3 separate regions of the Homo sapiens genome follow, and regions 1 and 2 are each linked to region 3. The links come from fine-mapping of genetic effects on gene expression. A gene starts in region 3. Each other region holds a variant in brackets. All regions are shown on one strand. Distances are from middle to middle. Region 1 holds the start of LOC107985840 (a long non-coding RNA gene). Region 2 overlaps EIPR1 (EARP complex and GARP complex interacting protein 1). Region 3 holds the start of EIPR1 (EARP complex and GARP complex interacting protein 1).

What was found. PIP is the estimated chance that this variant, and not a neighbour inherited with it, causes the effect.
Region 1: its variant is the best candidate, but not a certain one, in a credible set for the expression of EIPR1 in monocytes after LPS (Fairfax 2014, PIP 0.82).
Region 2: its variant is the best candidate, but not a certain one, in a credible set for the expression of EIPR1 in whole blood (TOPMed, PIP 0.88).

The regions. Positions count from the first base shown.
Region 1 is chr2:3,184,454-3,195,570 of GRCh38, reverse strand. It overlaps EIPR1 (EARP complex and GARP complex interacting protein 1), which reads left to right. Exons shown (of 9, transcript NM_003310.5): 7 at 1,405-1,572; 8 at 2,990-3,157; 9 at 6,063-6,601. The coding sequence ends at 6,237. LOC107985840 (a long non-coding RNA gene) reads left to right here and starts at 8,203. Exons shown (of 4, transcript XR_001739257.1): 1 at 8,203-9,167; 2 at 9,393-9,548. The variant C/T (reference allele first, on the strand shown) is at 6,302.
Region 2 is chr2:3,249,194-3,259,411 of GRCh38, reverse strand. It overlaps EIPR1 (EARP complex and GARP complex interacting protein 1), which reads left to right. Exons shown (of 9, transcript NM_003310.5): 4 at 1,957-2,113. Among named protein-coding and RNA genes, the nearest start is that of EIPR1, 120 kb to the left of the region's middle. RefSeq lists enhancers at 4,744-4,873, 4,884-4,933 and a silencer at 7,020-7,314. The variant C/T (reference allele first, on the strand shown) is at 2,136.
Region 3 is chr2:3,375,276-3,380,275 of GRCh38, reverse strand. It overlaps EIPR1 (EARP complex and GARP complex interacting protein 1), which reads left to right and starts at 2,458. Exons shown (of 9, transcript NM_003310.5): 1 at 2,458-2,628. The coding sequence starts at 2,587. It overlaps TRAPPC12 (trafficking protein particle complex subunit 12), which reads right to left and starts at 582. Exons shown (of 12, transcript NM_016030.6): 1 at 400-582. RefSeq lists silencers at 562-611, 2,175-2,234 and enhancers at 1,100-1,616, 1,617-2,133, 2,405-2,454, 2,475-2,654, 2,675-2,954.

The sequences.
Region 1 (11,117 bases), 190 kb after region 3:
AAAAGTTTAGGTATTATATTTTAGGGAAGAAATATTAAGATATTGCAAAGGTGCAGGATATAAAAACCAGAAGATTTAAAAGTGGTTTAGGGCCGGGAGTTCTAATGTGAGAGAAAAAGATGAAAGGAATTGAGTTCCTCTACTTTGGAGAGCAGAGAACAATGATGGTCTTCAGATAAAGGAAGCAAATTACAAGGCACAGAAGTTTCCCATTGCTCATCAGCCCCATTGAGGCCTGCGGTGAGGAAGGTAAATGATGCAGGAGTGATTTCAGTCCCGCCCACGGCAGTGCTGGGGAGGCCGTGCAGGTAGGAGCTGCTGGGCAGCGCCAGGCCATGGGTTCTTTGCTCTCCTGGGCGCAGCCTTTTGTTCCAAGCCACTGTCCAGCCTCACTGGATGACCTGCCCTCTGGGATTCATGACATCAGGGCCATAGGCAGGATATTATGACTTCAGACCCTGCGAGGAGCAGCCAAGGACCATAGGATCCAGGGCAAAGTGAGATGTGTGAGTGCGTGTGTGCGTGTCTGCCCTCTCATGCATAGATGTGTGCATGTGTGTGTACATACATGTGTGGGCGTGCACACAGATGCACGCGTGAGTGTGAGAACGCACGCACTGTGAACAGCCGTGTGACTCATTTCAAACAGTCCCCTTCTCCCACCCTGGAGCGAGTGGGTTGCACTGGCCACCAGCAGTGTTGGACCTGGAGCTGGTGTGGACAGTGGAATGGCAAGCCCAGCTGGCATGGTCCTTCCTGCTTTCATGGCCTTCCCCACTGCTCCTCCCTTTCTCTCTCTCTCTCTGTATATATCTATAGATAGATAGATAGCCGGCCCCTTCCTGCTTCCATGGCCTTCCCCACTGCCCCCCCCTTTCTCTCTCTCTCTGTATATATATAGTTCTATATATAGATAGATATTTTGTGTTGTATGTGTATGTATGTATATATATATAAAATTTCCCAACACTATATTCTACCTCAACTCCCTGTCTTTTTCTTTTCCTTCTTCACTGTGTCCTTCCAGAAATGTGTCAGGCATCCTGTCCAAATGTCTGGCTCAGTGTCCCCATGGCTGTTGCAGCCCCTCTGGCATGCTTTCATTCTCAAGATGATACCAAGTCACATTTTTGACGGCTACAAAGCAAAAATTCCTTCCACGGCTCGCCCAGAGGGTCACAGATACGCTTCTGGAGAGATGAGCGTGGTGCGACCACACAGGGTTGCTGGGATGGAGGAGGTGGCGCCAGCCTCTTCCTGCAGGGCAGGAACGCCGAGGGGATGAGAGCACCCTGGGCCGGGGGATTAGACAGGGTCCCGGGAAACCAGTGTGTGCCCGCAGCACGCAGTGGCTTTTCCTAATCCATTTACTATTTTCCTTTGCTGTTCTTCCTTCTCCCTCAGCCAGATCTACTGCATAGAGAATGCCCACGGACAGCTGGTGCGGGACCTTGACTTTAATCCCAATAAGCAGTACTACTTGGCCAGCTGCGGAGACGACTGTAAGGTGAAGTTCTGGGACACCCGAAATGTCACCGAACCCGTGAAGACCCTGGAGGAGCACTCCCACTGGTAGGGCCGCTCCTGGCTGCTTCAGGGAGGAGGGGATTACGCAATTGATTTTGCTAATTACTTTACCATTGGGAAAGACACAAACCAGCTTAGTTTGTGCTGCTGTGAATCATTCAATCAACCCAGTTTTATTTTTCCTAAAGAAACACTAATTCCAAATCTGAATGTTTGTGATTTATAAACGTAGGAAAAGAAGAAAAACATTAAATTCTGTTTTCTCTTGAAACAGTGCTGGTTCAAGTATACAAAAATAAATGTGCACAGATGTTCACGCAACATTATTTGTAATGCCAGAAACCTGGAAACCACCCAAATGTCCATCACTAGGGGACTGGTTAAGTAAATTAGGTGACATCCGTGCAGTGGAGATGATGCAGCTGTCGGGAGAATGTGGAGCATCTCTATGTGGCTGTGGGAAGATCTCTGAGGTCACTCATTCTCCCTAACATATTATTTGAATGTTTTTCATGTGCTGGGTACTTTTTGCTAAGTAAGTAAAAAGATCAAGTTGTACAATGGCATGTATAGCATGAATCCATTTTTATGCAAATAAAACGTGTGTGCACACACGGGTGTACACAAGTGTGAGTGACACAGGTATGTGGAGGAAATGTCTGAAAGAGTAAGAGCCAAAATCTCATCAGGAATCCTCCCCAAGTCAAAGAGGGGCATTCACTCCCTATGGCCTGCATCTCTGTATTGTTTGAATTACTTATCTGAAGCTGTATGTTAAAACCCCGGATTGGTAGTGCACACTTCTGATAAATTCAGTGACTTGCTGGAATTTCCTGTGGTCTGAGTGGCTGGGCCTCCCTGTGCCCCTGGCCATGCTGGGTGCACCTCCTAGCGTCAAGGGCCTGGCACTGTCTGCCACCTGGGCCCTGGAGCTTGTTTTGGCCTCAGCATGACGGGAGGCAGAAGCTCCCAGGCTCTAGGACCCACGCCAGCAAGAAAGCTGATCCCAGTAGCCAAAACCAAGGACAGCCCTTGTGCCCCGGGAGGCCGCCATGCCCTGGTCTCAGGACCCACAGTCACTGCCAACTGGGAAGATGCCGTGAGACTTGTTTGATATTACAGGATATCGCTAATCCACATGTTGCTTCTGGGACAGTATTTTTTTTTTTTTTTCGAATTTTAGAAAGCTTGTCTGAAATGTTGCGTGATAAGCCTTCTCCTCCTGTAGGTTTCAGCCAACATTTAGTCTTCCCTGTCTGTCTCTTGGGACTTAAGAGAAACCTGCAGTAAACCCAACCTCAGCGGAAAACTGCCTTATGTCAGGCCCTGTGACTGGGGGCCGATTGCCTGGCAGTGCCTAACGTGAGCCCCAGCCTAGTGGGGCCCTCAGAGCCGGTGTGATCCATTGTTGGTGTTGCCTGCGGGTGACAGTTCATTTCAGCAGCTGCCTTGCCCTTTGCAGGGTGTGGAACGTCCGCTACAACCACTCTCATGACCAGCTGGTCCTCACGGGCAGCAGTGACAGCAGAGTCATCCTTTCCAACATGGTGTCCATCTCGTCGGAGCCCTTCGGCCACTTGGTAGACGACGATGACATCAGTGACCAGGAGGACCACCGTTCTGAAGAGAAGTAAGGGCACGCACTGCAGAGTGGCTCACGCTGTACCAGAGCCTCCTGTCTGCACAGCCATCTCCCGAGCCAGGCTGTGTATGTAGAAAGTTTCCAGGAGTGCATTTGGGGGACACTCTCCTTACCCACTGCAGCTGTGGGGACTCACAGTTCCAGGGGTGCCGTCATTAGCAGCCCAGGTGGGAGGCACTGCAGGTGCGTTAGGGTTAGGTGCGGTTTTAAAATAGATCTATTTGTGTTTGTATTCTTATTGAATGCCATCTGTAAGATTTAAAAGACTCACTGGTCTTCAAACTTGAGCATGAATAATAATAGAACGAATATATCCCAATCCTCACAGCACTCCCTGTAAGAGACGCATCACAGTCAGTGTCTTCACTGGCGTGGATTTGAGCGTGTTGGGGTCGGGTTGTTGGCCATCAGCTCACGGGCCTTCCACTGGCTGGTAGCAGGGCGGAGACTCCAGGCCAACCTTCCCAGTCTCAAACCCGGGTCCTACTTCACTTCTAGATACTCTACAAAATGTGGTCAACCATGATGTGGGTTTTCTAGTCACACCATCATGGTTCTGGATTTTCCCAAAGCTTTTTCCTATGCACCTTGATTTCTGATCCTAGGTGAGATGGGAGATCGCTAAGGGCAGCCTCTTCATGCCCGCCTCTGGTCAGCGGTGCAGTGCCAGGGCCCCTGTGTCCTTGAGCAGTCCACCTTTAGAAGTGGCAGCCGCTTCCTGGGGGGTGACTAGATGCAATTCAGTTGCAACCGCAGAGATTCTTGCCCCAGGTTCCAGAGGAAGGAGGTTCTGGAATAAAACCTTGTGAAGTTGGACAGAGCCCTTAGATACGATGGGGTCTGTCACTCTGTTTTGGGATCCTTTGCACTGTTTTTTGTCTGAATTCTCCCCCTACCCACCTGAGCTTGGTCTAAAATTCCTCTGTGAGAAGACCTCTTTCTTCAGACCCTCTCTGCAGTGGCGATGGGACCATCTGATTGTCTCTGTCTTCGGACCCTCTCTGCAGTGGGGATGGGCCCATCTGATTGTCTCTGTCTTCAGACCCTCTCTGCAGTGGCGATGGGCCCATCTGATTGTCTCTGTCTTCGGACCCTCTCTGCAGTGGCGATGGGCCCATCTGATTGTCTCTGTCTTCAGACCCTCTCTGCAGTGGCGATGGGCCCATCTGATTGTCTCTGTCTTCAGACCCTCTCTGCAGTGGCGATGGGCCCATCTGATTGTCTCTGTCTTTGGACCCTTTCTGCAGTGGCGATGGGCCCATCTGTTTGTCTCTTGACTCTGTTGCCTTTGTTTTGTTTTTGAGACAAACAAAAACAAACAAAAAAGTCACCCAAGCTGGTGTGCAGTGGCACGATCATGGCTCACTGCAGCCTTGACCTCCTGGGCTCAGGTGATCCTCTCACCTCAGCCTCTCAAGTAGCTGAGACAACAGGCCCATGGCACCATGTCTGGCTAACTTTTTGTAGAGACAGAGTTTTGCCATGTTGCCCAAGCTGGTCTCAAACTCCTGAGCTCAAGTGATCTGCCCACTTCAGCCTCCCAAAGTGCTAGGATTACAGGCATGAGCCAGACTCTGTTGTTTTTCTGTTCAAACCTTAGAAACTCGGTCTGCCATAGAATAGTATTTAAGCACACGCACGGTAGCATCTGCCCAGTGGTCTCTCGGTGCCTGTGGGCCTGGCTCCCTTTACCGTCCTCTCTGCCAGTGGCCCAGGGAGTCTGCACTTCCTCACCATGTCTGTCCCTGTTAGGGGAGGAGCCTGATGGGCCCGTTGGTCGGAAGACTGCTGGCGTTGTCTTCTGGGCGGCAATGTCATGGGAGCAAGATAGGAAGGGAGGAGGTGATCGGGGCTACGCAGACTTCTTAGGACATCCCTCAGTCCTGATGTCCTGCTGCATTCAGGAAACCATGATTCCTCCTAAGGATTTGCACCTGGCATTTGTCCCACAACAGCAGTTGACCACTGGCAGGTCCACTTTGTGGGAAGCCAGCTTCCCAGAGACCATGCGAGTTCTGGAGGGTCCGTCTTGCTGGGGGGGTGAAGCATTTTCCTACAAAGAAATGCAAAAGCAGTTAGAATGCGGTACACAAATTATGTGGGAATTTTTTTGTGAAATGGGAAGTAAAGTGCCAGAGAAGCCTGTGTCCACCGGAAAGTGGCCGCTGTGAGCCGGGCAGGGCCCCCTCCCCATGCACGCTGTGCTGAGGAAGTGGTGCTTCTTGTGTGAGGATCCCCTGGTCAGGGCTCCCAGTGAGGGTAACTCACAGTCAAGGGAGGCGAGGTGGGAAACACCCTGGGGGAGGCCAGGCAGGTCACGCCTCTGCTGCTCCCACAGGGCCAGGGCGTCTTCCTCTTGGTGTCCTGGGGGATCCTCAGCCCAGCCCCACTCCCATCCTAGCAAGGCTCCTTGTGCCCCAGCCTCTGACTCCTACACAGCCAGGAGCTGGACCCGCTGCTTCCCAGGGTCCTTTCTGCTCAAGCAATAGGGGCGTTTACATCCTGTGTTACCCAGACACGGTGACTACTTCCCCCAGTCTTTCCCCTGAGCTAAAGGAAGCCCTTGGAAGACCTCCAACAAAATATCAACCCAGGCACCCGGGGGCCAAGGACAGAAGAAACCAAGACACCATGTGCCAATGTCGCCGATTTCCATAAACCTTTTGAGAAATGCCCACTCCTCACAGTGACAGTGAGGGTTTCTGGGCTTCTGCAGGGACCACCCCACCGTCCTCGGTGTGGGCTCCTCTAATTCTTCCCATCCCACAGCGGAGAAAGCTGAGGCCCCAGTACCTCCCGTGTCTCCCGATGTCAGCGCTCGCGTCCTCCCTGCCCCTCTCCTGCCCGCCCCGCCGGAGCTGCTGCGCTCACGTCTGCCTCTGTTGCATTGCAGGAGCAAGGAGCCCCTGCAGGACAACGTGATCGCCACCTACGAGGAGCACGAGGACAGCGTCTATGCCGTGGACTGGTCCTCGGCTGACCCGTGGCTGTTTGCCTCCCTGAGCTATGACGGGAGGCTCGTGATCAACAGGGTGCCCAGGGCCCTGAAGTACCACATCCTGCTATGACTCCCGGGCCTGGGTTATCCAGGTCCCATTGAGTGGTTTTCCTCTTGGCAGATTCTCAAACAGT[C/T]GCAGCTCTTTGGAGGTGACTCGTGTTCCAGGTGGATCCCTCTCTGGGAGAGCCGCTGTTCCCTTCCTGTAGCAGCAGCATTTATGAATGGGGTGAATGGGGCTATTGTCGACGGCACAGCTAATGCCCGAACCCAGCCCCTGTCGGCAGAGACAGAGCCCCACATTATTATGTGAATAACAATGTTTTCTGTTTTAAGGGTGTCAGGAGTTTCGCTTTTTAAAAAAATGTCTGTTCCTGCAATAGTAACTCTTCTTTCTCTTGAGAGTAAAAAATGAAATAAAATAAATCCACGCTGCACAGGTGCTCGGCTCATTCTTTCAGGAGCTCTGCCCTGTGACCCCATCTCCTGGGTCTTTGTCCATTTTCTCTTTCCTGACCCAGGGAAAATGCAGATGGACAGACGTGTGCTGTCTACGCCGCCCTAGCATGGAACTCCCGGGAGCCATGCTGGCTGCTGGTGGGCACCTGGCTCGCGCCCTGGGCTGAGCTGGTGTGATGCATTTTCACTGCTGTAGACGCAGGCTCTGCCCGCCCTGGGCCTCCCCTGGTCTCTGCAGCCCATCCTGTGCTGTGTCCTGCCCACCTTGTGAGCCGGGCAGGGCCTCCTCCCCACGCGCACGCACTGGTGGCCTTGGAGGTGCCGTCCTCCCTCACCTCGGAGCTTGGGGTTGGGCTCCCGCGTCTCAGTTGTCGGGGACCCCTCACAGGCTCCTACACTCATCAGTGCTTATCCTTAGGAATCCTCAAACACTGACCTCGCAGCCTCTGTTCGTGGTTCCTTTGGGTGTGCGGGGTCTGTTCTCTGTGTCTGGTGCGTGTTCCCACTGGAGAAGCCACCTGGGCCCTGGACTCTGGGCTCCATCTCCCTTAGGCCTCCACCTGGCCAGGTGTCCCCGCAGGGGCCACTTCTGCGCTCTGCTGCCCCGATCACCTCATCTGTAATGATGGGGAAGGATGGGCTGAGCTCACAGGCCCATCAGCTCTGGGGTTTGACGATTCTAGGACAAGTCTTGCCCGACCTGCAAAAAGGACACGTTCCTGCTGCAGCGCCCCCGCCAGTAGGTGTACCGTGCTGCTAAGGACGCTCTGCACCCAGAGGGCCGCATCCTGGATTTTCCTTTCATAGATGAGAGTTCACAGCGAAGTGGAGGCCATAGGGGGAGAGGTGAAAAGGTGGGGTCCTGGGCGAGGGGACAAGTATGGGGGGGTCCACAGGTGGGGGCTGTAGGGAGGGGTGCACAGCTGGGTGGGGCTGTTGGGAGAGGCAAGCAGGTGAGTGGGGAGTGGGGAGGGGAACGCAGGTCGGGGGGCCGTGGGAAGAGGCACGCTGGTTGGGGGGCCGTGGGGAGGGGTGCACAGGTGGGTGAGGAGTGGGGAGGGGAATGCAGGTGGGTGGGGCTGTGGGGAGGGGCACGCTGGTTGGGGGGCCGTGGGGAGGGGTGCATAGGTGGGTGAGGAGTGGGGAGGGGAATGCAGGTGGGTGGGGCTGTGGGGAGGGGCACGCTGGTGGGGAGGCCGTGGGGAGGGGTGCGCAGGTGGGGAGTCAGGAGGGGCGTGCAGGTGGGGGGGCCATGGGGAGAGGCATGCTGGTTGGGGGGCCATGGGGAGGGGTGCACAGGTGGATGAGGAGTGGGGAGGGGAATGCAGGTGGGTGGGGCCGTGGGGAGAGGCACGCTGGTGGGGAGGCCATGGGGAGGGGCACGCTGGTGGGTGGGGAGTGGGGAGGGGCGCACTGGTGGGTGGGGGGTGGGGAGTGGGGAGGGGCACACAGGTGGGTGGGACCGTGGGGAGGGGCGTGCTGGTGGGGGGGGCATGGGGAGGGGCAAGCTGGTACGGGGGGCCTTGGGGAGGGGTGTGCTGGTGGGGAGTGGGGGTGGACAGAGACAGGTGTGTTGCAGACCCTCCAGCATTTCTGCTTCCAGGTAAAACCTGCACGTGTGAGGAATGTGTGGCATTGTAATGTCAGTCCTCCCTTCAGTTGCTGTCACTTGAAAGAAAATGTGTTTGTTTAACAAACATAAATTGAGTGCCTACTGTGTACCCACACTTCTAGATCCTGCTGTTGCTGCAGCCACAGCTGTGATTAGGGCAAGTCTCAGCTCCCCTGGAGTGAGTGCTCCTGTGGGCCATCAGGTGACATGGGGACAGATGCCACAGGGGAGTGTAGAGGAGGGGCCAGGGAGCGCTGTGGGAGCGAGGCTCTCTGAGAAGGCGATGCGTGAGCCAAGGCCCAGGGTTGGGGTGGGGTGGCACCTGGGTGAGTGGATCAGGTAGGGAGGCAGCTGGGCTGGCATGGGAATGAGGCAGGAGGCCCAGCCATGGGGAACTGGAGGTCCTGCCTTTTTGAGACGGAAGCCACTGAACAGGTGAGGACTGAAGTTTAGAGTTTGGATGGTTTACTGCCTTTGATTGGCACACAGCCGCCAGTGTGTGTGCGTTGTGTGTGTGCAATGGTGAGGCCACTGTGCACCCGGTGGCTGGCTTCTCATGAGTTTAACACACACTCACCACACCAGTCAGCCCTCACGTCTTTACCCTGGATCCTTTTCGAGAAAGGATCTGGAAAGTAAACATTTTAGACTTTGAGGGCCACAGTCACTGTCCATGTTCCTCTCTGTGGTTGTCCTGCCAGACACACACCATGAGTTTACAAAGACAGGCGGTGGATGGATGTGGCCTGGGGCCTGTTTGCCAATGCCAGCCCCAGAAAATAAAACTTATGTTTGCATAAATACCTATACACAGATATTTCTACCCAGGCATAATCACCAAGTGCTGGAAGCAACACAAGCGTCCTTCAATGGTGAACGGATGGCAGGGCCCCCAGAAGACCACAGGAAAGTCGTGTAGAGAAGACGTTCAGGTGAGCTCTGGGACGAGGAATCTTCAGAGGAGGCGAAGATTCCTCTGAATCCTCCTTCAGAGGAGGCGAAGATTCCTCTGAATCCTCCTTCAGAGGAGGCGAAGATTCCTCTGAATCCTCCTTCAGAGGAGTCTGGGGGTGGGAGGGCACAGGGCATGGGGTATCCAGGAGCCAAGCAAAGTGTTGGTTTCCGGGAGAAGGACTGAGGCACCCTCAATGCTGCAGATGGGGCGTCAGATGTGGGGGAGAACGAGCTGGAGATGGACACGGACATGGAGGTGTGGATGGCCCTGGGGAGGCCCCCTGGCAGCTGGTGGATGGCAGGAGCGGCGTGGACAGCAGGAGCAGCATGAACTGCAGGAGCGGCACGGGATAAGAGAGGTAGGAAGCTGGGAGCGGGAGGGGCTGTGTAAAGGAAACAACAGGAGGAGTAGCCCCCCAGGGCCTGTGACCACAAGGAGCTTTCTATTTCTTTCTTTTTTTTTTTTTTTATTGAGACGGAGTTTTGCTCTGTCGCCCAGGCTGGAGTGCAGTGGCGCAATTTTGGCTCACTGCAACCTCCGCCTCCCAGGTTCAAGCAATTCTCCTGCCTCAGCCTCCAGAGTAGCTGGGATTACAGGCATGCGCCACCACACCGGGCTAATTTTTGTAGAGATGGGGTTTCACCTTGTTGGCCAGGCTGGTCTCAAACTCCTGACCTCAGGTGATCTGCCCACCTCAGCCTCCCAAAAGTGCTGGGATTACAGACGTGAGCCACCGCGCCCGGCTGAGGATCTCTCTCTTTAAGAAGGAGAAATATCTGTGTTTCTGAATGCGGATAGACTAGTCCAGTGGAGAAGCACAGAGGGGGGAGAAGGGATATCCTGGAATAGGAAGGCGAGGGTGTGATCTGGTGAGCAACTCCAGATGAACAGGGTGAGAGGTTCCGTTAGAGAAAGCGAGTGTGCCCCAGGACAGCACCACGTGGGACCCAATGCCATCATCAGTGCGGCCATCGTCAGTGTGGCCATCGCCAGTGCGGCCATTGCCAGTGCGGCCATCATCAGTGTGGCCACGGTTTGGGCGTCATCAACAGTACTTCTATTTGTAAAATGCACACACATTCAAACACAGGACATAGTTTTATCTTAAGGACCCCTTGTAAACAGAGCAAGCATCCCCCTTCTGAGGATTTTGAAACAGGCTAGGGGCACCTTGCCCGGCTCTGTCCACCGACCGGGGCATAGGCCATGTCCCCTTCATGCAAGTCTCTCAGGCTCTGCCTCCAGCAATTCTTACCCATAGGCAGCCCAGTGACCTCTAGGTGACTGGTTGGACAGCTGGAACAGTTAGGATGCAGCCATGCAGAGACTTTGGGGTTCATCACCAGCATCCTTTGTTGCCCATGCCATTTTCAGAGCTAAGCCTGCATCCCTGTGCGTGGGGTGGTGGAGGGGCTGCACTGGACACCCCTGCGCGTGGGATGGTGGAGGGGCTGCACTGGACACCCCTGCGCGTGGTGTGGTGGAGGGGCTGCACTGGACACCCCTGCGCGTGGGGTGGTGGAGGGGCTGCACTGGACACCCCTGCGCGTGGGGTGGTGGAGGGGCTGCACTGGACACCCCTGCGCGTGGGGTGGTGGAGGGGCTGCACTGGACACCCCTGCGCGTGGGGTGGTGGAGGGGCTGCACTGGACACCCCTGCGCGTGGGGTGGTGGAGGGGCTGCACTGGACACCCCTGCGCGTGGGGTGGTGGAGGGGCTGCACTGGACACCCCTGCGCGTGGGGTGGTGGAGGGGCTGTGCTGGACAAGCCTCCTGTATAGATGGGGTTCTTCCCTCCTTTACACAGAAGCTGTGTTGAAGGTGATGGGATTACATGTGGACCTTCTTTACCAGGACCTGGGGGGCTGGGAATATGGGGAAAGAAGTCAGCCTCGACCCGTCCTCCTGGCCCCTCTGTGCAGTGTCA
Region 2 (10,218 bases), 120 kb after region 3:
GCTTTATTGAGGGCAACGTGGATATAGTTAAGGAGTTTGGTGAGCTGGCGTTTACAGGAAAGTCACTTTCTTTACACCTGAACAGAATTCTCCAAAGAAGGAACTTGTTGGGGATGTGGGGGGGAGTGTCTGCCATTAGTCATTTCTTCCACAGAATAGCTGTTTTTACTATTCCCTGCCTTTGTCATCTTGTGTATTTCATTCATTTTGAAGTGCAGCCACAATTTAGTGCTCCCATTATTAGTTCTATAACTTGTAAGATTAGACATGTATTTTTCTACCATTTAGAAAGATTAAGATAATCTACACCTCTGTTGGGTTAGTGTGTGCTAGTGGGTTAGGCATTCATTTTTTTCTTTCCTACTCCAAATTGCCAACTTTCCCTTTGGTTATTTTTGTGTTTCCAGGAGTGCCATTGCCAATCTCGTGGGCTCTGCAGAAAGATCGTGTAACTGAAAATTTCAGCAAATAAATAAATAAATAAATAAATAAAATTCCCTTGTAGACAGAACTGTCTGTACACTCCATTTTTGTAAAGTTGGAAGTGTGAACATTATATGAATATATGATGGAGTTTTTTTTCTTTAAGCCATAATTGCATGTTCTTTTAGACCCAATATGGTATATAAAATGGTCACTGAATTTGGAATCAGAAAATCCTGGTTGAAGTCTTAATCTTTTAACTTCTTATCATTCAATCATGGTTAACAATGGTATTAATAATATTCACAAAGTTAGATATTTTGTCATTGAGTTCGTTGCTATATTGCTTGGTCGATTAGTTGATATTGAGATCGCAAGAGCATCATCACCAGTAAGTGATACATTTTCGATTGTAACCTAAGGTCGTTGTTATTTTGTAATGCCATGCTGTTTTCCTTCTTGTACTACCCATGAAATGTTTTTTTATGTTCTAACGCAATATATAATATTTTTATGTTCTTCACTTGTTATCAATTGATGATTTAATGTTGAATCCTGTTTGCTAGTTTATGATTATTCATTAAAGGCCATCTTTAAAAGGGAGAGGTGTTTAGCACATATTCAATTGAAAACTAAATGGAAAGCAAATTCTGAAAGGATTTATGTTCAAGAATTCAATGTTAAATCTAATTTTTAAAAAATTTATCATATTGAGAAATTTTCTAGAGCATCAGAGACCTTCCTTGGAAACAAGTGACCCCAGTCTTTCTAATGCAGGTTGAGTCTCTATCCACAAAGTGGCTTTTCTAGGTACTCTAGATTCCTGGAGCATCTTGAAAATAGAGTATCAAGACTCAGGGAGACCGAGCAGCCACCAGCAGGATCGTGTAAGGATGGCACTCTCATTTCTAGGAGAAGAGGCTGTATTGATGGTGACATGACCAGGCTGGGCTGCCACCTGCTGCCCACCAGGGCTCCAGGCCTCAGCATGCGATGCCTCTGAATGGCATTACCTTCCGGTCCCAGATACTCATCACTTTAGGTAAACTGAGGCAGAATAACATGCGTGACAGGATTTCCGAATGGAATATCGCTCAGTGTGCCTAATAGTCATTTAAGGTGATCTCATACAGCTATGGAGAGAAAACCCGTTTAATGCCAACCTTAGACACCAGCTGCGTGCGTGGTGATTATATCTTTAGTCCCCCATTTTGCTCCCTTTTTTGAAGAACTATTGAAGAAGAACGGAAGGAAATCGATTTTGAGGAAATTAAATTTTCTTTTGAAACAGCATGATGGTTTTTAAAACAAAGAGAAAGTGGGGAACAGGATGCTGATTACGAACCGTGCCGGGTTCTGCCTGCCGACTCAGGCTGTGCTTCTCCCTGCTCCGTCTTTGCTGCCTGCAATCGTACATATTTTAAAGAGCAGATGCGCGCTGCTTATGGATTTGTGTAAATGTGCGTGTGCTGTCTGCAGAATGCGGGGCACACCGTGCTCTGTTGACATTATCCATTATGCTCTGTTGCTCAGCTTCAGACAGCAAAGTCCTGACATGTGCAGCCGTGTGGAGGATGCCGAAGGAATTGGAATCAGGCAGCCACGAGTCCCCTGATGATTCATCCAGCACTGCACAGACCCTGGAGCTGCTCTGTCACCTTGACAACACAGCCCATGGCAACATGGCCTGGTAGGATTTTGCATATTTCATG[C/T]GCCCAGAACGAGCCTGCAGGTTGGCCAGGTGCAGGAGCTTGTGCAGATTCCTTTGCAGGAGCCACCGTCCACACCTCGGAAACGCTCCTTTCTTTTAAAAAGCTGCGAGAATTTGATTTTTAATTTTAGTCCCTGTGTTTTCTAGATTAGCCGCATTGACAGAAATGTAGCCAGCGCGCCTGCATCCCCACTTTCTCCTCTTCATCTAAGAGGAGTGTTGCCCGTGGGGACCTGCCAGAGGGTAAAGGGTCAGGCACTGCACTGCCCTCGAGCGCTGTGTGGCTTTTCAGCTTGGTCAGCATGCACTTATTCACACTCACATGGCAATTATTTACCACTTCAGGTTGAGGCTTACAATCCCTTCCTCCCGTGGACAAAGCATGAATGCGTGGTGTGCCTGTGGGGCTGCGTGCCCAAGCCCGCCCGTGTCCGGCATGTGGTGTGTCATTCACGTGGCTCCCTGGCCAGTCGCTGCTTCATGAGCTTGGAGGCCTGGCTGTGTGCACCCACTGGTCATTCCCAGGGACCTCTCCACGGCAGTCACAGCTGCTCTCTGAAGGCCCTGAGGCCTTGGTAAAAATTAAGAAGCCGTATTTTCTAAAGGAGATTGCGGGGGCATACTGTTGTTATGAGTGTTTACAATAACGATAGTGATTGTTTTACTTAATGCATTAACACATACACATGTGCGTGTGTGTCTGCAAGAGACAAATCGTTTGTACAGTGACTTCTGTCTCGTCAGTTCTACCAATTAAATAAATTTAATACAACAAATACTTATTAAATACCTGCTACAGAAACCCTGCCAGGCTCCAGGGACACCAAGGTGACAAGTTAGAGGGCCCGGCCTCCGAGAGTCATGATCTCCACGGGGAGACCCAGGGTGTACACAACTAACTGTGGCTGGGCCAGCCGTGGCGTACCCCGAAATCATTACGAACTGTACGCTGTGGCCCCGGAAGGAGCAGCCATTAATTGTTATTAGAGGAATTGAAGAGGGATTCGCTTACGAGGTGGAGTTTGGAACGGGGACTGAGGACCGACTCAGGTTTCCCTCGTCAGGTATGGAGGAGAGCAGTGCTGAGGGTCAGGCAGTCTGTGGCTCCGGATGCTCTCTGTGTATCAGTTTGTGGTGGAATTATTTTTATACTTGCTGTGCTTCTACCACGTCGGTGGATATTTCTTCTTACGGAGATGCTCTGAGTATTAAAATCACAGCCAGTCTTGCACAGTAAGGGGAGGCAGATGAAGAGTCCCAAAGTCCCCAGGAGTGATTGCCACTGCTGTCACTCCCCGCCCGAATGCAGGATCTCTGTGCAAACCACACAGCACTGTTAGGAGTTCCACATTTCAAATGATTGCCACATCCCCAGCAAATAGACATTTGTGCGCATGTGTGTGATGCACATGTGCACACATTTGTGCTTGTGTCTCTGTGCACACGTATGTGTGCACATTTGTGTATGTGTTAATGTGTGTACACGTTGCAGGAGACACCGGCACCAGGGAGCAGATGAGTGAGACTCTGCGCAGGTCAGTGGTCACGTTAGGGAGGTTAGCATGTGTAGCGGATGGCAGTCCTGCTGGGATGTGCAGAGACAGGTGAGCTCAGAAAAGGGACCTTGGCCCTGCCTGGGGACAAGGAGCTGTCAGACTGCTTCTCAACTTCCCACCTTGTGCAGACACTGTATGCAAAGACAGGCCACATGGGTGTGTGTCATGGGGAACTGATTATTAGATTGTAATGTTAAATTGCATCATACCTACATAGACTTATGAAAATAGTTGTTGAAGGTGGGGTGCAGTGGCTCACACCTGTAATCCCAGCACTTTGGGAGGCCAAGGTGGGTGGATCACCTGAGGTCAGGAGTTCGAGACCAGCCTGGCCAACATGGTGAAACCCCATCTCTGCTAAAAATACAAAAATTAGCCGTGTGTGGTGGCACGTGCCTGTAGTCCCAGCTATTTGGGCAGCTGAGGCAGAAGAATCACTTGAATCTGGGAGGCGGAGGTTGCAGTGAGCTGAGATCAGGCTACTGCACTCCAGCCTGGGTGAGAGAGACTCCGTCTAAAAAAAAAAAAAAAGAAAGTAAGAAAGTAATTGTTGATATTAAACAGGCAAATTCAACTATCCTCAGATCTACCTTGGAATGCCATTTGCTCTGATTTTGCCTCTGTTGTTCAAAGTATTGCTTGAATTCCATTTTGTTATCCAATATATTATTGCATATTCTTTTTTCTCTTAAGCTTTTTATTTTGAGGTTGTACATTCACATATAGTTATAGGAGTAACAGAGAGATCCCGTGTATCCTTCAGCCAGTTTTCCCCAATAGTAACACTGCATAACTATGGTACTGTATCACAAACAGGAAACTGGCATTGATACAGCCCACTGAACTTACACAGATTCCTCCTGTTTATATGCATTCGTGTGTGAACATTGACATCTGTGCCATTTATTGTGTGTGTGGGTTCGTGTAGCCACCACCAGAGTCAAGACACAGAACAACTCCAACCCTGGGTCCCTTGTGCTATGTTATATTTATAACCACAGCCACCTCCCTTCCGCCTCCAAGGCCTTAGCCCCTGGCCACCCCGAATCTGTACTCTATCTCTGTATTGTTATTTGGAGAAGGTTCTATAAATGGAATCACCCACAGTGTAACCTTTAATAACTGATGTTCTTTACTCGGCTTGATTCCCTGGAGGTTGAGTTGCTGCTTCATTTTCAAGTTTGGGTTCCAGCCACCATGCGTGCTGGTCAGTGGCTGGTTCCTCTTTGCTGCGGCGGGATATCCCATGGCATGACGCACCACGGTTTGTTAAGCACTTGCCTGTTGAAGCTCATCTGGGTTTTTCCTTGTTTTTGGCGATTATGACTACAGTTGCGGTAAGTATTAATGAACAGGTTTTTGTATGAACAGGAAGTTTTATTTCTCTCGGCTCAGTTAGTTTTGTGTGGAGCTGCTGCACGTGTGATGCCATGACAGAGCGTGAGGGCTCCTCCTCTCTGCGTCCTCCCCAGCATTTGGTGTCATCATGCGTGTTCTTTTAAGTGTCTTCCATGGTGTGAAAGTGTTATGATTAGATAGGGAATTTGATTTGGGGGAACGTCGGTCTGGTGAATACGGCACAGGTGAAGGCTGCCCTTTGGGGTCAGGCTCCAGGTGCTTGGTGGTGGTTTTGTTTGCCTCCTTTTGGCATATAATTGGCACCAAGAACAGCTCCAGGAGATGTTTACTGCACAAAGCTTCTGGCCACCTGGGAGTGCCCGAGAATGCCACACGGTTCCCCACACTCACGTCGCTACCACTCCAGCTGCCATCACGCCTGCCATGGGTGCTCCCTGCAGACTAGAGGCATGCCCCACACCGCAGGAAATGGTGTTAGGGGCTCCTGTCCTCCTGGCCATTTCAGCTTTTGCCTGTCTGGAGCAATCTGATGTCCTAATTTCCATCACCCCTCCTGTGTCTGTCTCAGCACTCCAACAAGCAGAGGCTGAACAGGGCACCCCACCAGTCGCCTTTAGCTCCTGCTAGTGGGAACAGCGAAGGCTAAGGAAGGAACTTATAGAGCCTTATGACCCAGTGTGCCCCCCAGAACACTAATCAGACATGCTCCAGAGCCAGGCAGCCTATGGAAGCAGACAGAGACTAGCTGGGAAGTACTGAGTCCGGTTTCTCGTCCTCACCCACTCCTCGGGAGCAGTAGGGTCTTTAGGAAGTCACTCATTTCTCTAGCTCAAACCTTCATCCCTGAAACGGCGATGACGTTGCTCAGCTGATGGTTGTGTGGCAGGGCCTCTACATGGTGTCCACCAAGAGTCCAGTTCTGTAAAATATTTGAAGAGATTTATTCTGAGCTGAATATGAGTGACCACGGCCCTCAGGGGGTCCTGGGAACATGTGCCCAAGGTGGTCGGGGCGCAGCTTGGTTTTATACGTTTTAGGGAGTCATGAGACATCAATCAAATACATTTAAGAAATACATGGGTTTGGTCCAGAAAGGGGGGACAACTCGAAGCAGGAGGCTTCCAGACTGTAGGTAAATTTAAACATTTTCTGGTTAACAATTGGTTGAATTTGTCTAAAGACCTGAGATCAACTGAAAGGGATGCCTGGGTTAGGAAAAAGGACCGTGGAGACTCAAGTTCTTATTGCAGAGGAAACTTCAGGTGGCAGCTTCCGAGAGAACAGGCTATAAAATGTTTCCTATCAGACTTAAAGCCTGTGTCGATGTTGATGCCAGAGAGGTAGAATGAGGCACGTCCGATCCCCACTTCCCATCATGGCCTAAAACAGCCTTTGAGGTTAAATTTTAAAAGAGCCCTGGCTAGGGAGAAAGTCCGTTCAGATGGGTGGGGTTCTTAGAGTTTTTTATTTCTGATTTACAGTGGAAATGTGTCCCTTACTATATTTGCTAAGGAAGATCCTAAAAACAAGGCAGTGCCGGGGTTCCTGTAAGGGCCCCTCAGGTCCCCGCCAGCCCTGGTGCTCTGCAGCTCTGCCCGGCAGGGATGGAGCCCCTGAGCTGGCCTTAGAGGACCTGCCCCATCACCAGCCCCACTTAGACGCTCCTGTCTCAGCCTCGCCTGGTTAACCCTTCCCTCTCAAGTCACCATGCTCTGCCCCACCCTGTGATTTCTTGCCATTTTGCCCAATTTTTTGTTTTTGTTTTTGTTTTGGAGATGGAATCGCCCTCTGTCACCCAGGCTGGAGTGCAGTGGCATGATTTCAGCTCACTGCAACCTCTGTCTCCCGGGTTCAAGCAATTCTCTTGCCTCAGCCTCCTGAGTAGCTGGGATTACAGGCACCCACCACCACGCCTGGCTAATTTTTGTATTTTTAGTAGAGACGGGGTTTTGCCATATTGGCCAGGCTGGTCTTGAACTCCTGACCTCAGGTGATCCGCCCACCTCAGCCTCCGAAAGTGCTGAGATTACAGGTGTGAGCTGTTGCACGTGGCCCGTTTTGCCGTTTTATCTTCGTAGGAGTTGCCGCTGCTCAGTACTCCCGTCTCTGTTCTCACTCACGTGTGGTGTTCTCTGTGGACGCTGAGCCTCTGCAGAAGCTGCTGACTTTGTCAGGTCCGAGGCTGTGTCCTCAGCACCAAGGACAGCACAGGGCGGACACTCCGCGTATTTGAGTGAGAAAATGAATGCTTTGCAACAACCATATCGTATTGAACCGTTCTGTGAACGAGGCCCCTTTGCTAGGGCTTTGCATGCATTACCTCACTCATGCAAATCCTGTAAAGTAGGGACTGTCCTTTCCCATGGCCCCAAGAGATTAAGGTAAAGGTATCTGGAATTACTCACTCCTACAGAGGGAGTATTCAGGATTCATAGCCAGAAGTCTCGCCCCAGAACTCCAGAAACACTGGGATCACCTCCCTGTTGAATGAACAGAAGGAGCCATTTGTGTTCCTCACAGTGTGATTATGAAATTGTCTCTGTTCCTGGGAATATAAATGTATCTTCATGACAGTAAGCGTTGAGGATGTTTCAGTATTTCTAGCTGGTCCTTTTGGTTGATAAACATTAATAAAGTATGCTGTATATGGGAATTAAGCATTTTGAAAATAACAAAATGCCCTTCTTTTTAAACCTGCTTTCCCCTCTCTACCTCTGGTTTGCTTCTTCGTCAGCTATAGTGACTTGTGGGAGAGATGGTGGACTTCAAGGCAGCAGACCTAGGGTGGCGGGCTCTCGTTTCAGATTTACAGGTAGTTATTTGTAGTGTTCCAACTTTGGGCAAGTCATTTCTGTTGAGGCCTTGTTCCCTTGTGTGTGGAGTGGGGGTGGTTGTGGGGCCTCGGATTCTTTCCAGTTCTACGTTTATTAGATGTAGAGGACATTTATTTATTTGTTTATTAGATGCAGAGTCTACATTTATTGACTGTTGCTCAGTGCCACATCACTTTGTTTTTAATGAATCAAAAATAAATTACAGACCCTCTTCCCACCCTCCCTTTAGCCTCACAGTGGCTGACACCCCTGCTACTCCAGCCAAGGCAGCCTGCCTCAGGAGTAGGAACTTACAGAGGGCACGGCCGCAGTCTTCTCGCTGAAAAGGACTTTGGAAATCATTCAGATGAGTTCCCTCTGTGGATGAAGTCAGTTCAGCAGACCGCTGGCCGCCTGGGTGGAATTGAACTGAACACTCCCTTGGGGGTGCTTTTATCAAATTATGCCCATCTAGTGTAATGTTTTAACTATTTTTCAGTATATCTCACACTGTTATATTTTATTTTATGTGTGTTAGCTGCCTCTGTTAGTCTGTTTGCATTGCTATAAAGGAATACTGAGACTGGATAATTTATTAAAAAAAAAAAGAGGTTTATTTGGCTCAGGGTTCTGCAGGCTATATAAGCATGGTACCAGCATCTGCTCTTGGTGAGGCTTTAGGAAACTTACAACCATCGTGGAAGGTGAAGGGGGAGCCAGGACATCACTTGTTAGGAGAAAGAAGCAGCTGCCAGACTCTTTTAAACAAGCGAATCTTGTGGGAACTAACTGAGCGAGAAGACTCAGTCATCACCAAGGGACGGGTGCTCAGCCTTTCATGAGGGATCCGCCCCTGTGGTCCAGTACCTCCCACTAGGCCATGCCTCCAACATTGGGATCACATTTCCACATGAGATTTGGAGGGGACTAACATTCAAACCATACCATTCTGCTTCTGCCCTCAAAGAGCTCATGTCCTTCTCACATCACAAAATTCAATCATCTCTTTCCAGTAGTCCCCCAAGGTCTTAACTTGTTCCAGCCCCAACTCAAAAATCCAAAGTCTCATTTGAGACTCAAGGTATGGGCTGTAAAATGAAAATCAAGTTATTTACTTTCAAATTACAATGGGGGTGCAGGCATTAGGTAAACATTTTCATTCCAAAAGGAAGAAATCAGCCAAAACAGAGGGGCAGCAGGCCCCATGCACGTCTGAAACCTGGCAGGAAAGGTATTAAATGTTAAAGCTCCAACACTGACTCCATGTCCTACGTCCAGGGCACACTGGTGTGAGGATTGGGCTCCCAAAACCCTGGCCAGCTGTCCCCATGGCTGCCTGCATGGGTTGGAGTCAAGTGCTTTTGGTTTTTCCAGGCTCAGGATGCAAGCTGCTTCTGGCTCTACCATTCTTGGGCCTGGAGGGCAGAAGGTTCCTTCCTACAGCTCCACTAGGCAGTGTCCTAATGGGGACTCTGTGGGGACTTCAACCTCACATTTCCCCTAAGCATTACCCTAGTGCAGTCTCTCTGCAGTGGCTCCACCCCTGTGGCAGTCTTCTGCCTGGGCACCCAGGCTTTCCCATGTATCCCATGAAATCTAGGGGAAGCTGCCAAGCTTCTTTCACTCCTGCATTCTATGTACCCACAGACTTAGCACCATGTGGAAGTTGCCAGGGCATATAGCTTGCACCTGCCGGAACTGTACCTATGGCCCCTTTGAGCCATGACTGGAGCTAGATGCAGGGAGCAGTGTCCTGAGGCTGCACAAGGAAGTGGGGCCCCGGGCCTGGCCTTGGAAACCATTATTTCCTCCTGGGCCTTTGGACCTTGGATGGGAGGGGCTTTCCCCCTCCCAAGATGCCTGAGATGTCTTCAAGGCCTTTTTCCCATTGTCTTGACTATTAGTGCTTGGTTCCTTTTTAGTCATGCAAATCTCTCTAGTAAGTGGTTGCTCCACAGCCCTCTTGGATTCTTCCCCTGAAAATCCTCTTTGCTTCTTTTCTACATGGCCAGGTTGTGACTTTTCCAAACATTATGCTTTGATTCCCTTCTAAACATAAATACCAACTTTAAGTCATTTATTTGCTCCTGTATCTGATTGTAGGCTGTTAGAAGCAGCCAGGCTACCTCTTGAATACGTTGCTTCTGAGAAATGTCTTCTGCCAGATACTCTAGGTCATTTCTTTTAAGTTCAAACTTCCACAGATTCCCAGGGAATGGACACAATGCAGCCAAGCTCTTTGCTAAGGCATTAACAAGGGTGACCTTTGCTCCAGTTTCAAATAGCTTCCTCATTTCCATCTGAGACCTCATCAGGCCTTCACTGTCCATATTTCTATAAGCATTTTGGCTACAAT
Region 3 (5,000 bases):
AATTAAGTCTAAGGGAAGTTAAGGGGCTTGCTGGGGGCCTGGCTGGCACCAAGCCTGGAACTGGGGGTCTCGGGGACGCCTGGGCGCGCGCCAGCGGGTAGTTTCCCACACGCTTCGCAGCAGCTTCCCCTTCCCGCAAACTCCGCGGGCTGCAGAGACGCTTCCAGCCCTCTGCAGACGTGGAGAGCAAGGGCCGCGGCGACGTGGAGCCTGGCACAAGGCCCGCGGAGCACACACGCCCTTGGGTGGCAGGCGACCCCGCGCCCGGACCCCACGCCCACTCTAGCATCGGTCCCAGAGAAGGTCCCTCCGGGCTGAGGCCAAAGCCAGTGTGCTCCCTCCCCGAGGTGGCGCTACACGGTCCCATCCCCTCTGGACTGCCGAGGCCCTGATCCTCACCTGCCACCCGCCCACTGGAGCTGGGCTAAGGGGTCACCTGCGGCCGTGACCAAGGTCCGTGAGGAAGGTGACAGAAGCCGGGAATCGGAGAGGAACTGGCACCCCCGGGGAGCTCTGTACGCCTGCGCGTGCCGGGCCGCGGCGCGCCTAGTTCTGCTCAGGCCCGATGCAGGAACCCGAGGCCCTGCCCCCAGGCCGGAAATGGGGTTCGTTTCCGGTTCGTCTGCTGTGGGCGGGGCCTGGAGCCCTAGGTGTGAACGCGCACAGGCAACCAGGAGCCGGTAGTTGAGGGGAGCGGACCCTGTACTTGGAAATGGGAACGGAGACTCCACTCCACCTAGCCTGATTCTGTCACTCAGAGGCAATAGGCAAGCCTGTGGCAGATGGGGCGGGTGAAAGGGAGTCGCTTAGGCTATTTTTATTGACCAGCATATCCTAGAAATCAGTGTTTCTATGGATTTGTCTTTGTGTTTATCTGTATTTTGTAAGTTTCTTACCATGCACCTGCAGTACTTGTATAATAAAATTAATGATAAAGATATCAGTGATAGATGGGTGGGTTTAATCCCGAAGTATGAAGGCCCTCTTAGCTCCGCAAGTTAATATCGGCAAACAGAGTGGTTGAATAGGATGATTCTCATGTCTGGGCCATTGCTTACTTGATTTCTTTCTTTCTTGTTTTTGCTTACTTGATTTCTTTCTTTTCTTTTCTTTTTTTTTGACCGACTCTGGCTCTGTCGCCCAGGCTGGAGTGCAGTGGCGCGATCTCGGTTCACTGCAACCTCCGCCTCCCGGGTTCAAGCGATTCTCCTGCCTCAGCCTCCCGAGTAGCTGGGATTACAGGCGCGTGCCACCACGCTGGGCTAAGTTTCGTATTTTTAGTAGAGACGGGGTTTCACTGTGTTGGCCAGGCAGGTCTCGAACTGACCTTGTGATCCACCCTCCTCAGCCTCCCAAAATGCTGGGGTTACAAGCGTGAGCCACCGCGCCCGGCCTGCTCATTTGATTTCTCATGTAATCTCTAAAATTTCATACACTCAACAGATACTCATCCAGCCTTAACTCAATACCACGCGCCTTGCCCAACTGAGCAAAACGAGACCCAACCATTTCCGTCACGGAGATCAATAAAGGGTAGAGGGGAAAGCTAATCACAGAAATGGAGGAAAGGTGCGTGGTCCTGGAAGCCCCGGTGGAACCAGGCTAGCGGCGTGGTTCAGCTATGATGTATTTTGGAGTCCTTGCGATGCCATTTCTGCTGGCCCAAGGCCAGGGCAGGCACTTTGAGCAGGATGCGAAAGAGGGGCAGTCTCTCCACCACAAGTCTTTAGTCTTTGGAGACCTCTAGGAACCCCAGGGCCTTCCCTTCCGACTCCCATTCGGAGGCATATGCAGTCCAGGACCACCAGTGGTGCGGTGCCGGCTTTCATAACCCCATCCTTGGTAGTGCTTTCTTTGCCACACAGTGCTGGGCACCTGCAGAAATGCATTAGGCATGGCCCTGACTTAGGGCACCTTGGGCCGAACCTAAGGGAGTCAGCTCAGGTGCCCATCCTGGCTACCCAATGGACCAATGAGCGCTGCGACTGTGTTACTCAACTTTGCAGCGTCTCATCGGTAAAATGGAAGTGTAACAGCTTATTCATAGGGTTGGATGAAGCTCCTTATGGCAGTGCGTGTGAAGCGCTGGCCCAGCGCTCAGGAACGCCAAGTACATACAAATGACAATACATGGCGGCGCCCAACTACGGCGTGAGCGATTCTTAGATGCGATGGCTAGCTAAGGCTAATCGCCGCTTGCTCCCGACGGCCTGCGCTCGGAGCCGGCCTCCACCCACAGCCGGCCTCCGCGGCCCGCTCCGCCCACCAACTTATTTCCTCTGGGCCGGGTTCTCACCTCCAGGAGTCCCCGCGCTGAGAGCCCGGATGTGAGCCCAAGTGGCCATGCGCACAAGCCAGCGCCGCTGCCATTGGTCGCTGGTGAGGAACAGATTGATGACACATCCGAAAAATAGGAAGTGGCCACTACGGAAGCTGTTCTGGGCCAGAAAGACTTCCAGTTTGGAGTCGTTTGCTGCGGGGAGGGAATGAATGGGCGCTGGGAACACGCCCGCGAGGTGGGGACGCGCCGGCCGTAGCGAGGTCCTTAGCGTGTGAGTGGCCGGGGTCGGGTCGCTTCCCCGCAGCATGGAGGACGATGCACCAGTGATCTACGGGCTGGAGTTCCAGGTGGGTCACTGGGAGGGCGGCAGGTGCTGCTCGGCCTGGCTGTTGATAGCATGCGCGGTCCCATGGTGACTTCGGTTTGCAGATCTCCCACCAGCCCTGCAAGGACCCGTGTCTGTTCCCTAGTTCCCATTTTGCAGAGAAGTAAACTGAGGCTTTAGGAGGTTAAACGGTTGTACTGGATAACAGGGTTGGCCACAGCCGGCCTGCCTCCTTCCCCTTCACATCCTGTCCCGAACATGACTTCTGACCTGGAAGTTATCACTCACTTTGGTGGACTCATTTATTTACACGCCCACCTTTTCCTCTAGAATTTGAGTTCCTGAAGGTAGGAACTGTATGTTGTTTAAAATAAAAATGTTTGATTTTGAAACAATTTAAAGTATTTAGAAGAGTTGTAAAAATACATAGAAAGTTCTTCTTTACCCTCCACCCAGCTTCCCTTAATGTTAACACTTTACATAACCATCGTACATTTATCACAGCTTAGAAATTAACATTGGTACACTAATATTCAGTAAACCACAGACTGTCTTCGGATTCAACTGTTTTCACACTAGTTTTTTACCTTGTATTTTCCAGTGCCTTTTCATGACTGTCACATAGTAGGTGTTCAACAAATGACTATGAACCGAATGAGCCCCCAGAGCATAAGCAATGCACATGGTAGTTCAGGACAGCAAGAAAGCTGCCGTGGATAGAGTAAATGCGTCAGGGGGAATGAGGTAGGGGATGAGATGAGCGGGGGAGGAAGATGAGGATTGTGTAGGGCCTGTTAGAGCCCTGTCCTGGTTTTCATCTATTCAAGTAGCTTTTGAGAATGTGTTATGCCTAAAGCACTGAGGGACAGATAGAGAGATAGAAACACAGTTCACTGCCATATGAAATACTTGATACATAATTTTGTGCAGCAGTATGTGTTAAAGATATAAATGATGTCTGCTTTTTTTTTTTTTTTTTGAGATGGAGTCTTGCTCCGTTGCCCAGGCTAGAGTGCAGTGGCGTGACCTCGGCTCACTGCAACCTCCGCCTCCCGGGTTTAAGTGATTCTCCTGCCTCAACCTCCCAAGTAGCTGGGATTACAGGCACCCGCCACCACGCCCGACTAATTTTTGTATTTTTAGTAGATACGGGGTTTCACCATCTTGGCCTGGCTGGTTTTGAACTCCTGACCTTGTGATCTGCCTGCCTCAGCCTCCCAAAGTGTTGGGATTACAGGCGTGAGCCACCGCACCTGGCCAATGTCTGTTTTTAAGTAGGTTACAGTCAGAGAGGCAGCAGTGTTAGTAGAATAACATATGCCACCCAGACACCTAAGTTTTAAATCCTGCCTCTAGCACTTATTAACTATGTGACCTTGGGCCTCGGTTTCCTTGCCAATAAAATATGCATCTCCCTCCCCCCCACCTCATGGCTGTTATGAAATTAAATGAGTTAATACACTTAATTGAATCACGTAGAACAGTGCCTGGTGCATAGTGTGTTCAATAATTGTTGTTCTAATTGTTATAATGAGAGAAAATTCCTTTTTTTTCCTTTGTAGAAATGGGGTTTCGCCATGTTGCCCAGGCTGGTCTCACACTCCTGAGCTCAAGTGATCTGCCCTCCTTGGCCTCCCAAAGTGCTGGGATTATAGTCATGAGCCACCGCACCCTGCCTAAGACAAAATTCTTACAAATAAATTTTATACAGGGCAGCAGTTAAGTGTCCTGTATAATAAACTGTGCTATAGGATTTGACCAGTGGCTATATCACATTCACAAGACTGATAGCTTAACTACCAGTGATTTAGCTCTGGACTATGTGTCAGACACTCTGCTTAGCACTGTACAAATATTTCATTTAATTCTCACAGCAATCATTATTGGTAGGTGTTATTGTTCCTGTTTTACGGATGAAGAGACAGCCTCAGAGAGAATAGTTACCTGTCCAAGGCCACTTAACTAGTAAATGATAGACCTTGGATTCTGACCTACTTAGACTTTCAACCCAAACTGACCTCGAGTCCCCTTACCTGCTAAGTTCTACTGCTTTCTCTTTAACTAGATACACATAGGGATACACAGGGAGAGACCACATGGGTAGATAGAAGGTTCTATAATCTTGTACTACCTGAAGATGCATACTCTGCCAGTGCTACTTAATTTAACTTCTTGATCTCCTTAAGAAATCTCTCAAAAAACCCAGAGGATTTTATCTTCAGTATTGTATCTTTGAGGTTAACTGAAATGTTATTTTCTTTTTTTTCTCTCTTTTTTTTTTAAATTATTATTATATTTTAAGTTTTAAGGTACATGTGCACAATGTGCCAGTTAGTTACATATGTATACATGTGCCATGCTGGTGTGCTGCACCCATTAACTCGTCATTCAGCA